Linked DNA regions of Homo sapiens. The protein of the gene in region 2 interacts with the protein of the main gene of each other region in a biochemical or structural test. Each region holds a gene or a part of one and is shown on either strand. Other genes may lie near its edges. The genes, in order: ALB and PRB3.

Region 1 (7,156 bases), on a different chromosome or scaffold from region 2:
TTCTGCAGCTAGAAACTGACACTGAGCTGAATTAAACCACACGGAGAAGAACTGAGAAATTTAAAGTAAAAGGTTAGGAAATTCGAATGTATATATATTCCAGAGGCCCAGTGTAACATGAAGAAAGTCAAGGAGAGGGACTCTTTCATCATGGAAGATCTGGGGGCAGAGGGACTTAAAAGGTGGGACAAGCCAAAGATGGTGACCTAGGGTGGTTTTTATGATATAACCTTTTTTCTCCTCATTCCCTATGAAATCTTCAGCCAATTCCATATTTCTCACTAATTCAAGTGAATATCTGGGGGGATGGCTTATGGAGGGAAATAAGGGAGCAATTGTTTGGATTATATTCCAATTTTTTATTTGCATTAGAATACCTATATGTTTATACATTTTTATTTGCATTAGAAATACTTATATAAGTTTATACACTTTCATTCTAACTTTTTTTGAGGGAAATGTATCTCCATAAGTGAATAAGAAGTTAAATTACTGATTATGTTTCAATTGGTTAGTTTGATGCTTAACAGTCTTTCACTTTTCCACTCTTGCATATTTTGTAGAGAGTAATACAAGCTCTTCATGATAGGAAGGATCTGCATATGTTTATTTTATAGTAGAAAAATGGTAAGATTTTCCTGTCCCCAATTTTCTCTCCAAACAAATCCAAATTTCTTGTATTTTGGAATGACTCTGGGTAAAGTGGTTGTTTATAGAAAGTCTCTTATAAAATATTGAGGATATTATTAGATATTATTACATTTCCATGAATATGTTTCCCTTTATCTTTAAGAGAAGAAGAGTCAGAAATATAACCTATCAGAGTGGGAGATGGCATAAAAGCTGGACTAAATGGATTGCTAGATGGAGGGCAAACCTGGTGTGAATGACTCAGTGAGAAGCTTCGGGAGTCCTGAGGGTAGCAGAAGGGTGCGGATTTAAAGTTACTGTTAGAGTGGCTGGAAAATGGGAGACCGGTTCAGAGACATTTTATCTACTTAAAAACTGTGCCTTTTGTATCACGTCAAAGTGAATGCAAAACAAAGAACAAAAGGGTTAAAGGCTCAGGTTTAAATCCCAGGTATATGTACATTTCAATTGAGGTATTTTTTTTTTCTTTTCTAAATGATCAGTACACTTATTCTTTCTAAAGAAAATACTTTTCTTAACTACTCTCTATTTTTAAACTTCTCCCACAAAGATGAGAAAACATTTAAAAATCATTGGGGCTATTTTTCTGTTTACCGAGTAAAGAGAATCTCTAAACCATATTTATAACTCTTACTCTAAATATTTGCATTTACCCTCATGCCAGAGCCCGTTGATGACTGACTAAACAGAGTTTCAAAGTTTGAAGAACAGGAAATTTAGAAATGACTAACAATTATGTAGGTTTATTTCTCTCAGTATAGAATGTTCATATAGAATTAATGCCAGAGGTTTTCAGAGAAAAATGCAGAAATTTTTACTTTGCAAATCCAGAAGATGCAATTGTTCAAGTATTTCTTAAGAAACATTAATTTTAAGTATGCAGATATCATTGAGAATTAAATATTTTAATTTCTAAACTATTAATCTTTTAGTAGGATGCACATATGCAAAATGCCTCATTAGTACTGTAAGAAAAGATTCTTGGCCGGGCGCGGTGGCTCATGACTGTAATCCCAGCACTTTGGGAGGCCGAGGTGGGCGGATGACGAGGTCAGGAGATCGAGACCACCCTGGCACACGGTGAAACCCCGTCTCTACTAAAGATACAAAAAATTAGCCGGGCGTGATGGCGGGCGCCTGTAGTCCCAGCTACTCGGGAGGCTGAGGCAGAAGAATGGCGTGAACTCGGGAGGCGGAGCTTGCAAGTGAGCCGAGATAGTGCCACTGCACTCCAGTCTGGGCGAAAGAGCGAGACTCCATCTCAAAAAAAAAAAAAAAAAAAGAAAAGATTCTTTTAGGTTTCATCAATTTTGTTTTAAAGCTAGGGCTCTTCATTAGATATAGGAAAATCAATTCAAAGTTTCTATTCAGTCATGATGAATTTGAGATTTTTTTAGGTTTCTTTGTATTTAACAATATATTACATTATAATGTTGTGGTGAAAACTAAATGGACTAATATTATTCTTTTCATTTGTTAAATGAAAAAGTATGCACAAAGTATATGTGAGAGTGACAAAGGCCTGAATTTGTCAATTAGTAACAATTGTATTCAACAGTAAGGATTTTATGTTTGGGTAGGCCTTTCCCAGGGACTTCTACAAGGAAAAAGCTAGAGTTGGTTACTGACTTCTAATAAATAATGCCTACAATTTCTAGGAAGTTAAAAGTTGACATAATTTATCCAAGAAAGAATTATTTTCTTAACTTAGAATAGTTTCTTTTTTCTTTTCAGATGTAGGTTTTTCTGGCTTTAGAAAAAATGCTTGTTTTTCTTCAATGGAAAATAGGCACACTTGTTTTATGTCTGTTCATCTGTAGTCAGAAAGACAAGTCTGGTATTTCCTTTCAGGACTCCCTTGAGTCATTAAAAAAAATCTTCCTATCTATCTATGTATCTATCATCCATCTAGCTTTGATTTTTTCCTCTTCTGTGCTTTATTAGTTAATTAGTACCCATTTCTGAAGAAGAAATAACATAAGATTATAGAAAATAATTTCTTTCATTGTAAGACTGAATAGAAAAAATTTTCTTTCATTATAAGACTGAGTAGAAAAAATAATACTTTGTTAGTCTCTGTGCCTCTATGTGCCATGAGGAAATTTGACTACTGGTTTTGACTGACTGAGTTATTTAATTAAGTAAAATAACTGGCTTAGTACTAATTATTGTTCTGTAGTATCAGAGAAAGTTGTTCTTCCTACTGGTTGAGCTCAGTAGTTCTTCATATTCTGAGCAAAAGGGCAGAGGTAGGATAGCTTTTCTGAGGTAGAGATAAGAACCTTGGGTAGGGAAGGAAGATTTATGAAATATTTAAAAAATTATTCTTCCTTCGCTTTGTTTTTAGACATAATGTTAAATTTATTTTGAAATTTAAAGCAACATAAAAGAACATGTGATTTTTCTACTTATTGAAAGAGAGAAAGGAAAAAAATATGAAACAGGGATGGAAAGAATCCTATGCCTGGTGAAGGTCAAGGGTTCTCATAACCTACAGAGAATTTGGGGTCAGCCTGTCCTATTGTATATTATGGCAAAGATAATCATCATCTCATTTGGGTCCATTTTCCTCTCCATCTCTGCTTAACTGAAGATCCCATGAGATATACTCACACTGAATCTAAATAGCCTATCTCAGGGCTTGAATCACATGTGGGCCACAGCAGGAATGGGAACATGGAATTTCTAAGTCCTATCTTACTTGTTATTGTTGCTATGTCTTTTTCTTAGTTTGCATCTGAGGCAACATCAGCTTTTTCAGACAGAATGGCTTTGGAATAGTAAAAAAGACACAGAAGCCCTAAAATATGTATGTATGTATATGTGTGTGTGCATGCGTGAGTACTTGTGTGTAAATTTTTCATTATCTATAGGTAAAAGCACACTTGGAATTAGCAATAGATGCAATTTGGGACTTAACTCTTTCAGTATGTCTTATTTCTAAGCAAAGTATTTAGTTTGGTTAGTAATTACTAAACACTGAGAACTAAATTGCAAACACCAAGAACTAAAATGTTCAAGTGGGAAATTACAGTTAAATACCATGGTAATGAATAAAAGGTACAAATCGTTTAAACTCTTATGTAAAATTTGATAAGATGTTTTACACAACTTTAATACATTGACAAGGTCTTGTGGAGAAAACAGTTCCAGATGGTAAATATACACAAGGGATTTAGTCAAACAATTTTTTGGCAAGAATATTATGAATTTTGTAATCGGTTGGCAGCCAATGAAATACAAAGATGAGTCTAGTTAATAATCTACAATTATTGGTTAAAGAAGTATATTAGTGCTAATTTCCCTCCGTTTGTCCTAGCTTTTCTCTTCTGTCAACCCCACACGCCTTTGGCACAATGAAGTGGGTAACCTTTATTTCCCTTCTTTTTCTCTTTAGCTCGGCTTATTCCAGGGGTGTGTTTCGTCGAGATGCACGTAAGAAATCCATTTTTCTATTGTTCAACTTTTATTCTATTTTCCCAGTAAAATAAAGTTTTAGTAAACTCTGCATCTTTAAAGAATTATTTTGGCATTTATTTCTAAAATGGCATAGTATTTTGTATTTGTGAAGTCTTACAAGGTTATCTTATTAATAAAATTCAAACATCCTAGGTAAAAAAAAAAAAAGGTCAGAATTGTTTAGTGACTGTAATTTTCTTTTGCGCACTAAGGAAAGTGCAAAGTAACTTAGAGTGACTGAAACTTCACAGAATAGGGTTGAAGATTGAATTCATAACTATCCCAAAGACCTATCCATTGCACTATGCTTTATTTAAAAACCACAAAACCTGTGCTGTTGATCTCATAAATAGAACTTGTATTTATATTTATTTTCATTTTAGTCTGTCTTCTTGGTTGCTGTTGATAGACACTAAAAGAGTATTAGATATTATCTAAGTTTGAATATAAGGCTATAAATATTTAATAATTTTTAAAATAGTATTCTTGGTAATTGAATTATTCTTCTGTTTAAAGGCAGAAGAAATAATTGAACATCATCCTGAGTTTTTCTGTAGGAATCAGAGCCCAATATTTTGAAACAAATGCATAATCTAAGTCAAATGGAAAGAAATATAAAAAGTAACATTATTACTTCTTGTTTTCTTCAGTATTTAACAATCCTTTTTTTTCTTCCCTTGCCCAGACAAGAGTGAGGTTGCTCATCGGTTTAAAGATTTGGGAGAAGAAAATTTCAAAGCCTTGTAAGTTAAAATATTGATGAATCAAATTTAATGTTTCTAATAGTGTTGTTTATTATTCTAAAGTGCTTATATTTCCTTGTCATCAGGGTTCAGATTCTAAAACAGTGCTGCCTCGTAGAGTTTTCTGCGTTGAGGAAGATATTCTGTATCTGGGCTATCCAATAAGGTAGTCACTGGTCACATGGCTATTGAGTACTTCAAATATGACAAGTGCAACTGAGAAACAAAAACTTAAATTGTATTTAATTGTAGTTAATTTGAATGTATATAGTCACATGTGGCTAATGGCTACTGTATTGGACAGTACAGCTCTGGAACTTGCTTGGTGGAAAGGACTTTAATATAGGTTTCCTTTGGTGGCTTACCCACTAAATCTTCTTTACATAGCAAGCATTCCTGTGCTTAGTTGGGAATATTTAATTTTTTTTTTTTTTTAAGACAGGGTCTCGCTCTGTCGCCCAGGCTGGAGTGCAGTGGCGCAATCTCGGCTCACTGCAAACTCCGCCTCCCGGGTTCACGCCATTCTCCTGCCTCAGCCTCCCGAGTAGCTGGGACTACAGGCGCCCGCCATCACGCCCGGCTAATCTTTTGTATTTTTAGTAGAGATGGGGTTTCACCGTGTGCCAGGATGGTCTCAATCTCCTGACATCGTGATCTGCCCACCTCGGCCTCCCAAAGTGCTGGGATTACAGGAGTGAGCCACCGCGCCCGGCCTATTTAAATGTTTTTTAATCTAGTAAAAAATGAGAAAATTGTTTTTTTAAAAGTCTACCTAATCCTACAGGCTAATTAAAGACGTGTGTGGGGATCAGGTGCGGTGGTTCACACCTGTAATCCCAGCACTTTGGAAGGCTGATGCAGGAGGATTGCTTGAGCCCAGGAGTTCAAGACCAGCCTGGGCAAGTCTCTTTAAAAAAAACAAAACAAACAAACAAAAAAATTAGGCATGGTGGCACATGCCTGTAGTCCTAGCTACTTAGGAGGCTGACGTAGGAGGATCGTTTGGACCTGAGAGGTCAAGGCTACAGTGAGCCATGATTGTGCCACTGCACTCCAGCCTGGGTGACAGAGTGAGACTCTGTCTCAAAAAAGAAAAAGGAAATCTGTGGGGTTTGTTTTAGTTTTAAGTAATTCTAAGGACTTTAAAAATGCCTAGTCTTGACAATTAGATCTATTTGGCATACAATTTGCTTGCTTAATCTATGTGTGTGCATAGATCTACTGACACACGCATACATATAAACATTAGGGAACTACCATTCTCTTTGCGTAGGAAGCCACATATGCCTATCTAGGCCTCAGATCATACCTGATATGAATAGGCTTTCTGGATAATGGTGAAGAAGATGTATAAAAGATAGAACCTATACCCATACATGATTTGTTCTCTAGCGTAGCAACCTGTTACATATTAAAGTTTTATTATACTACATTTTTCTACATCCTTTGTTTCAGGGTGTTGATTGCCTTTGCTCAGTATCTTCAGCAGTGTCCATTTGAAGATCATGTAAAATTAGTGAATGAAGTAACTGAATTTGCAAAAACATGTGTTGCTGATGAGTCAGCTGAAAATTGTGACAAATCACTTGTAAGTACATTCTAATTGTGGAGATTCTTTCTTCTGTTTGAAGTAATCCCAAGCATTTCAAAGGAATTTTTTTTAAGTTTTCTCAATTATTATTAAGTGTCCTGATTTGTAAGAAACACTAAAAAGTTGCTCATAGACTGATAAGCCATTGTTTCTTTTGTGATAGAGATGCTTTAGCTATGTCCACAGTTTTAAAATCATTTCTTTATTGAGACCAAACACAACAGTCATGGTGTATTTAAATGGCAATTTGTCATTTATAAACACCTCTTTTTAAAATTTGAGGTTTGGTTTCTTTTTGTAGAGGCTAATAGGGATATGATAGCATGTATTTATTTATTTATTTATCTTATTTTATTATAGTAAGAACCCTTAACATGAGATCTACCCTGTTATATTTTTAAGTGTACAATCCATTATTGTTAACTACGGGTACACTGTTGTATAGCTTACTCATCTTGCTGTATTAAAACTTTGTGCCCATTGATTAGTAACCCCTCGTTTCGTCCTCCCCCAGCCACTGGCAACCAGCATTATACTCTTTGATTCTATGAGTTTGACTACTTTAGCTACCTTATATAAGTGGTATTATGTACTGTTTATCTTTTTATGACTGACTTATTTCCCTTAGCATAGTGCATTCAAAGTCCAACCATGTTGTTGCCTATTGCAGAATTTCCTTCTTTTCAAGGCTGAATAATATTCCAGTGCATGT
Region 2 (7,582 bases):
TACGCCTTTAAAATTAACTTCATATTTTTCCATTCCATTAGATATCTTTTGTTAGCTTAATCATGTACTTACTGAAAACTAAGTATGTAAAAAATGAGACACCATTTAGCTGCTGAAAGATCAGGGACCATTTGGCAGGAATACTGGACTCGAGAGGCTGGCGTGAGGCAGGAATGAGCAAACAGTGCTCAGGTGAAAAATTTAAATGCAATATCTCTGAGTTTGTGGACCGAAAGCAGAGCACCAAGAATGGACATGGTACTACTTCCTCATTGCCAACACAATTTAAGACAGATTGTATGGTATGTTGTTTCTCAACATCAGAGTTCCTTAAAGAGTTTGTTAGAAATACAGGGTCTTCTTACCCTATTCCAGAGTATCTGAATACAAATCTTTAGAAATGGGTTCTAGGACAATACAATGTCAATGGGTTTTTAGTTGATTCATTGGCACAATAAAGTTGGAGAACTGTAACACTTAGAGCACTTGGTGAAGAATAAACTGGAATCATACCTGTCATTGAACCTTGATTACTGGGGAGGCTGTCCCTGGGGAGGTCTGTGTGGTCTGCCCCCTTGAGGAGGTGGAGGTGGTCCCTGGGGCTTTCCAGCGGGAGGTGGCAGAGGCTGCTGGGGATTGCCTCCTGGTGGGGGTGGTCCTTGTGGCCTTCCTGGAGGAGGGGGACGTTGAGGTTTGTTACCTTCTTGTGGGGGTGGTCCTTGTGGCTTTCCTGGATGAGGTGGGGGACCTTGAGGTTTGTTGCCTCCTTGTGAAGGTGGTCCTTCTGGCTTTCCTGGACGAGGTGGGGGACCTTGGGACTGGTTTCCTCCTTGTGGGGGTGGTCCTTCTGGCTTTCCTGGACGAGGTGGGGGACCTTGAGGTTTGTTGCCTCCTTGTGGGGGTGGTCCTTCTGGCTTTCCCGGACGAGGTGGGGGACCTTGGGACTGGTTTCCTCCTTGTGGGGGTGGTCCTTCTGGCTTTCCCGGACGAGGTGGGGGACCTTGGGACTGGTTTCCTCCTTGTGGGGGTGGTCCTTCTGGCTTTCCCGGATGAGGCGGGGGACCTTGGGACTGGTTTCCTCCTTGTGGGGGTGGTCCTTCTGGCTTTCCCGGACGAGGCGGGGGACCTTGGGACTGGTTTCCTCCTTGTGGGGGTGGTCCTTCTGGCTTTCCCGGACGAGGCGGGGGACCTTGGGACTGGTTTCCTCCTTGTGGGGGTGGTCCTTCTGGCTTTCCCGGACGAGGTGGGGGACCTTGGGACTGGTTTCCTCCTTGTGGGGGTTGTCCTTCTGGCTTTCCCGGACGAGGTGGGGGACCTTGGGACTGGTTTCCTCCTTGTGGGGGTGGTCCTTCTGGCTTTCCTGGACGAGGTGGGGGACCTTGGGACTGGTTGCCTCCTTGTGGGGGTCGTCCTTCTGGCTTTCCTGGAGGAGGTGGGGTACGTTGGGGCTGGTTTCCTCCTTGTGGGCGTCGTCCTTCTGGCTTTCCTGGAGGAGGTGGACACACGGCATTCACTGAATAGTTGCCGCAAATTTTTACAGTAACGCAGCTAAATGGGGAAATGCACAAAAATAAGACCCAGACACTAATTTCTTTGCATTTTCAGTGAAGCTCTAGAACTCTGGAGTGGAATGCTGGAGAAGAAGGAAGCAGTTGAGGGGCTCTCAGTCTAAGGAGGAGTCAGAATAAGGACACTGGCCATTTGTCTGTCATCTCCCAGCAGGCACTCCTGGCAGGAGGGAAGTCAACCCACTCCCGTTTTCATCTAAGCCAAGCATCTCTGCCATTCAATTTGGTGGCCCTGCTCATGGTCCCCAAAATCAAGGTTGCATGAAGATTGCCTGCATTATTAGGGGGACTAATATTAATCAATTTCTAAAGGAAAATGTTGGTGAGAAGACACTGGAGAACTGATCCATTCATAAGCAGAAGAAGATAGTTAAAACAGATTGAGAGTGAATTGGGATTTACCTGATATTACGGAGGGAGATTCTTCCTGGCTGACATCTAGAAGAGAAGCACAGGATGATGGGAAAGGTTACATCTCGAATTTTGCAAGATTCACAGGTGTTCTACAGGGAAAGGGGACTTCTCACCACACCCCATGCATCCCCTAGGTTAGCTCATCAGCTACCATCTGTGAAGCTGCTGGAAGGGGAGGAAGGTGTAAGGGGAGGCAGGGTTGTTACCACACAGAGCAACAGCCATGAACTCAATATAGAAGAGCCCCTTTTTTTCTTCCCTAGCATCCTTCAAGACTTAATGCTAATTTAGTTTACACATGCCAGGTACTTCAATGTGATATTTTGGTATTCTTATGCCCTCCATCTCCTATAAATACATTGCTTATATTCACAAGCTTTCTCAATTTCGGTAACCAGAAGTAATTGTTTCAATACAATCTTACCTATACCACTCCCAGCACATTGAAATACTGTGTGTAGGGGAAAGAAAAATCACAATGATTGAATCTGATATTTCTATATCTGTAGTTAGACACAGGCAAGTGTTTTATCCAGTTCTGTCTCTGCAGTATCTCTAATGTGTGTTTATCTCCATCATCAATGCTGATCCACTAGGTAGAGCAAGGCCACAATCATCCCTGTGTACTTACTGAGATCAGTTTAGGATCTTCACAGCTGGACTTTCCTGAATCTGCCTTGCATTCACCACTGCATCCTTCACAGCACAGTTCTATCTCTCTATAAATGCAAATCTTACCTTCTCATTCCCCTGGTACAAATTCTTTATTGGATTTTCATTGTACATTAAATAAATTAGAAGCCCTTGGTGTGGAATGAGGGCACAACAGGTCTCCTGATCCTAGGCATGAAACCTCTGCAGCCCCATCTGTGTTTTCATTCTCCTCTCTTCCCCATAATTACAACTATCACCTCCTAAGCCCCAAGCAGAGTCACCACATCTTCTCCTCCTTCTGTCTTACCTTCATTTAAGCTCTGAGCTGAGCTCAGGGCCAGCAGGGCCACCGACAGCAGAATCAGTAGCATCTTGCTGGAGGCTCTGGAGTCACTCCCAACTCTGTGCTGGGAGAACCATGGCAGCTCCCTTTATAAAGAGGAGCAGAACAGTGGCACCTTTGAGCTCCACACTGGGTGGGCCTCACCACCCCAGAGACTGGGTTCTGCTTTCCTTACTGCAGGTCAGGTGTATCCCTTATTTCTGTCTGGGACTCTAGCCCAGAGGAACAGGTTGGGTTGGATGTTGTTTGTACCTTATTTCTAAAAGGTACAACTATGACTTGAACAAAGGTTTTAAAGGAACTGTGTCCAAGCAATCAGCACGGTGTCATAATTGAACTTCAGACGTCATTAGAGTTTCAATCTTTTTGGTAAGACTATTGTCCACTTTCAACTTTGCTATTTATTTCTGTGTATGTGTGTGTGGGCAGTGAAGCTACAGCCAGCGGTGATGATGATCAATATCTCTGGCTGTTTTTATAGCCTATTTCCATCTCTCGTGATGTGTGTGTACAGAGAGTATCACATTTAGCTTAACTTTTGATGCGATAGAGATAGTTTCTGCTATCTGGGAGATGTTTGAGGACAGCACACTCCTGGGCACACAGATGACAGAAGGCTGCCTCACAGCCTACTCAGGCTACAGCTATTGTTCATGCTTCTGTGGATCTCACTCAAGTCAGGAAAGGCTTCTTGTTGTGAAACACAGGAAGGCCAAAATTGTGTATTTTAAAGTATCTTTAGGGGTTATGAATGCAAAATGGACACACAAACCACGAGGAAATTTCTAGACCTGAGAAAACTGAATATATAGTTCCTTGCAGGAACCATGCAATATCATGTTGCCAAAACTTCCTTCATGCTCTTCCCTTTCTCTAGAATATTCTACAAAATTCACCCTCTGCTTCATTTCTTTTAAGAATTGTATTGAATTCCTACCTCTGATAATTAAGTGGCTACAATTCTACATTCAAATAAGGTAATCAGATACCCTCATTAAAGCCTCAATTGCATTGTATTGGTTTTCTTGGTTTAGTCAGTATTTGTGTTACCTGTTTTCTCAGATTGTTCTTCCACAAAGAGTATTTTTTCTACAATATTCTGATATGCATTCCTCCCTGACGTTCTTTCTGGTACTTCTTTGTTCATATTTTATTTTCTGAGTCAAGCTCATTTTGTGTAATTTTCTTTATATATCTGGCTTTTTTCCCCAGGAATTTGGTAAGATTTCCTTTATTTAATCTTCTAAGTAATAAGCTATAATTCTCACCACCTTTGTTTCATTCTTGTCTGTGTAATTTCACAATAAATGTTGTGTTTCCAAAAAGCCCTCTCAGAGTCCTGCATTGTTAGCACTTCTTTTAGCTGCTGATTCTTCTGTTATACCTAGTAAATCCCTGCTCATCAGTTCATGGAATATACAGGTTAGTCAGTGAGTCAGCTGCCATTTACCACTTAGACCTTCTGTGTGTCTTGTGTAATTGTTCACATTTTGTGCATGGCTGGTATTAATTTGAGGACAGCTTGGCTGGAGGTATGATGGAGGTAGAGAGGGTATGTGACAGTAAATCCTAAAGACAGACCTCTTGACCATTGTGGATGAGTGGATCCTGGACTGTGCAGATGAGGGTCTGGTCTGGCCCTTCTGAAGAGTTGGGGGTAATAGTACAGGAAGACTTCCTAATACAGAAGGCTTTGCTACAGATAACTTTGCCCTTGCAAGGGAACCAGGAAGATTGATATTTTCCCTGGCAAAAATATAGACATACTTGAAAGGGGAATATATTATTAATTGGAAATTATTTCTGGCTCTATGGAAAGTGGACTGGTTCTAGCTAGTCTTCATGAGTTTTATCTTAGGCAGAGAGTACTTGCTTGTGCCAGCAGGTCCCATTATATTATTGAGATTTCTATCTCTGGTCTCCTCCATAGGAACTGGAGATGACCAATCCTGCCTAGGTGTCTTAAGTTAGACCATCAGGTAACAAAGGAATGTCAGAAACAAGGAGCAGCAGAGAGGCCAGGCCAACATTGCCTGATGTTGTCGCCAACTTAGGTTGCTGCAGGCCTGATACAAGAAAGATTTGTCCTTGGCAGGAGAGTAGAGGAAGACAACAGAAATGCCCCTAAAAGTCCCTTATCTCAGGCCCTTTCCCTGACTTTCTCCAATGTCAGCAATGAGTAAAGTGTATCAGGAAAGCATAAATATCAGCTATGCACTAACCAGACAAAACAAAAACAGAAGTGATGGAAATGTGGAAAGGGACACTGTCTGTGAGTGAGGGTGGGTGGAAGAGAGGAGCAGGACTGCAGCAGGAGATTGGGCATCTAGAGGTGAGTGGCAGCCCTCAGCACTCCACTTGCCTTCTAATATCCATGTTCATATTCTGAGGCCCTGAAGGAACAGTCTTCAACATATGAAATTTTAGGAAACACAATTCAGCTCTCATAACAACTCCCAACCTTTTCTAAGTCACTAACAGGTGTTCAGTGGTTCAAAAATCCTCACTCCCTTCAGGCACTGTCCTTTAGCAAATTGAGTTGCCTCCACTTTCAACACTCATCCCAAATAAAACCACTTGCATAATCTTTACTAGAAGGTGATAGTTCAGGCCACGATGCACTCTCCTGAAGAGCTTAATATCCTCAGCTGCTCTTGGTAACATTCCTACCCCAGCATTAGCTCTCTCACACCCACACATCTCTCTCTTTTTGAAGACTGGGAAGTTCTGTGAACGGAACAGAAAGCAGAATTTTCCTCAACTTACTGTGCTCATTGCATAAACCAGCCATTCTAATAATACGGTTGTGTGTGAGAATTCAGATTTGCTTGGAATTGTCTAAAAGCTTCGGTTACACTGATGTAATTGTCATCTTTATATTATATTATATTATATTATACTATATATTATATGATAACATAATATATATTATGTGATGGTCATCTTTATATTTTTATTTGATGTTGATGCTCTCTAAATATATATTTCACAATTATTTGAGCATATTTATATTCTTTCCATTTATCCTAGCAAAGGCTGATTATAATAGAAAACACTTCTTCAGCATTTACTATGATATTCAGTCTTCAGAACTATCATATTAGGGAGGTGTGATTATTATTATTATCTTAATTTTGTAGATGAGGTGATTTAGGTGCGTGCCTAGGTTCATGTAAAGGTAGTGAGTGGAATGGAAGGGAGTCAGTTCTCAGATCTGAGTTCTTGCCTACTGTGCTTCACTGGTTACTTGGTCTTCATTCATTCATTTCTTTACAAGAAAGTGAAAGGAAATGAGATTCAGAGAAGAAAAACAAGTTTCTCTTAGAATATTTTCAAGGTTAAATTTTCCTGAGACTTTAACAGCTGAGGTGAGAAAAAATATATTTTCCTGAGTAAACATGTTTGTTTGAAATCGTAATCACATTTAAAATGTCTTCTAGTATTCTGCTTTACCCCTTGCATTTATATAAAGATACTCAGGGGAATTAATTCCTTTTTTTCCTAGTTACAAAACTCTGTCAATGTAGATCCTGTATGTACTTCCTTAATCCATGCTACATGCATTTTTCTTGGGTAGCATATTAGCATTGGCAAAATTTGTGTATGCCCTTTTAAATTGACTAAATTTGATCCTTCTAATCACAATGGAATTAACATTCTAGAAATCCAAGAGGGAGTCTGATCAGAGAGTTGTCTAAGAAAGGATAAATTGTACACCGCTTACACAGCTTTCATATTCTGCATGAAGATGTCGCCTGTGTCCTGGCCCCAGAGCTGGTGTACCATCCTGAGTGGTTGGGGCTGTAGAAGGCATTGGTCATCAGCCTAAGGTCAAGTGTCTGTAGCCTCAGCTCACCACTGTTATCTCAATGTCAGAGTGTATTCTTGACCTTTCAGTTACACTTCCTAGCAGTTCATAGAGAAGTACAATCACAACTTATCTCATAAGAAATACAAAGCAATGTATATCACCCTCGTATTTTCCTGATGATGTACCAAGTCGGTAAGCTGATACATTTAAGAGGAATTTCATTAAAGTGATTAATCAATGACTCACTTATTAAACAGATAAACCTGTACCTATTTCTTACAAAAGACGTTTTCTCTTCTGCTTAAAAACCACAAATTATTATTTTATTTCATTGATATTGAAATCCACATGTATGCATATTTTTCATCTTGGGAATTGGAATGTGTGGCACATTGTGTTTTTAAAAGTTGATCACGACAGAATCATTCATCTAATGTTTTCTTACAATGGTACCTTGACATCCTCTCTTGAAGGGGTGAGGTCTGTTTTTACCCCCTTGAGCTTCGTTAGAACTTCGTTACTGCCATGACCAATAGATTATATCAGAAGTGATACTTTATGACTTTTGAGTCTAGATCATAGAAATGCCATGCAATTCCAAACTGTTCTTTATGGAACCTGCCACATGCTGCGAGGAAGCCCATGCTGTGAGACAGGGATAGAACATTCATTTTAAAAATGATTGGATACAAAATTATCGCTAAACAATATTCAATAAACAAGTTTGTTTCAGTGACCCAATTCCTACCTATACCACATATTATATTTCTACACATGCATGGCTACATAGCT

What was found.
Region 1: the proteins of PRB3 (region 2) and ALB form a complex in vitro, tested with the Homo sapiens proteins (one study listed by BioGRID).

The regions. Positions count from the first base shown.
Region 1 is NC_000004.12:73,400,321-73,407,476, forward strand, and holds the start of ALB (albumin preproprotein), read left to right. Parts: upstream 1-3,966; 5' UTR 3,967-4,007; coding exon 4,008-4,086; intron 4,087-4,795; coding exon 4,796-4,853; intron 4,854-6,308; coding exon 6,309-6,441; intron 6,442-7,156. UniProt on the Homo sapiens protein: Binds water, Ca(2+), Na(+), K(+), fatty acids, hormones, bilirubin and drugs. Its main function is the regulation of the colloidal osmotic pressure of blood. Major zinc transporter in plasma, typically binds about 80% of all plasma zinc.
Region 2 is NC_000012.12:11,266,663-11,274,244, forward strand, and holds the start of PRB3 (basic salivary proline-rich protein 3 isoform 2 precursor), read right to left. Parts: upstream 3,046-7,582; 5' UTR 3,008-3,045; coding exon 2,944-3,007; intron 2,007-2,943; coding exon 1,971-2,006; intron 1,487-1,970; coding exon 531-1,486; 3' UTR 514-530; intron 1-513. UniProt on the Homo sapiens protein: Acts as a receptor for the Gram-negative bacterium F.nucleatum.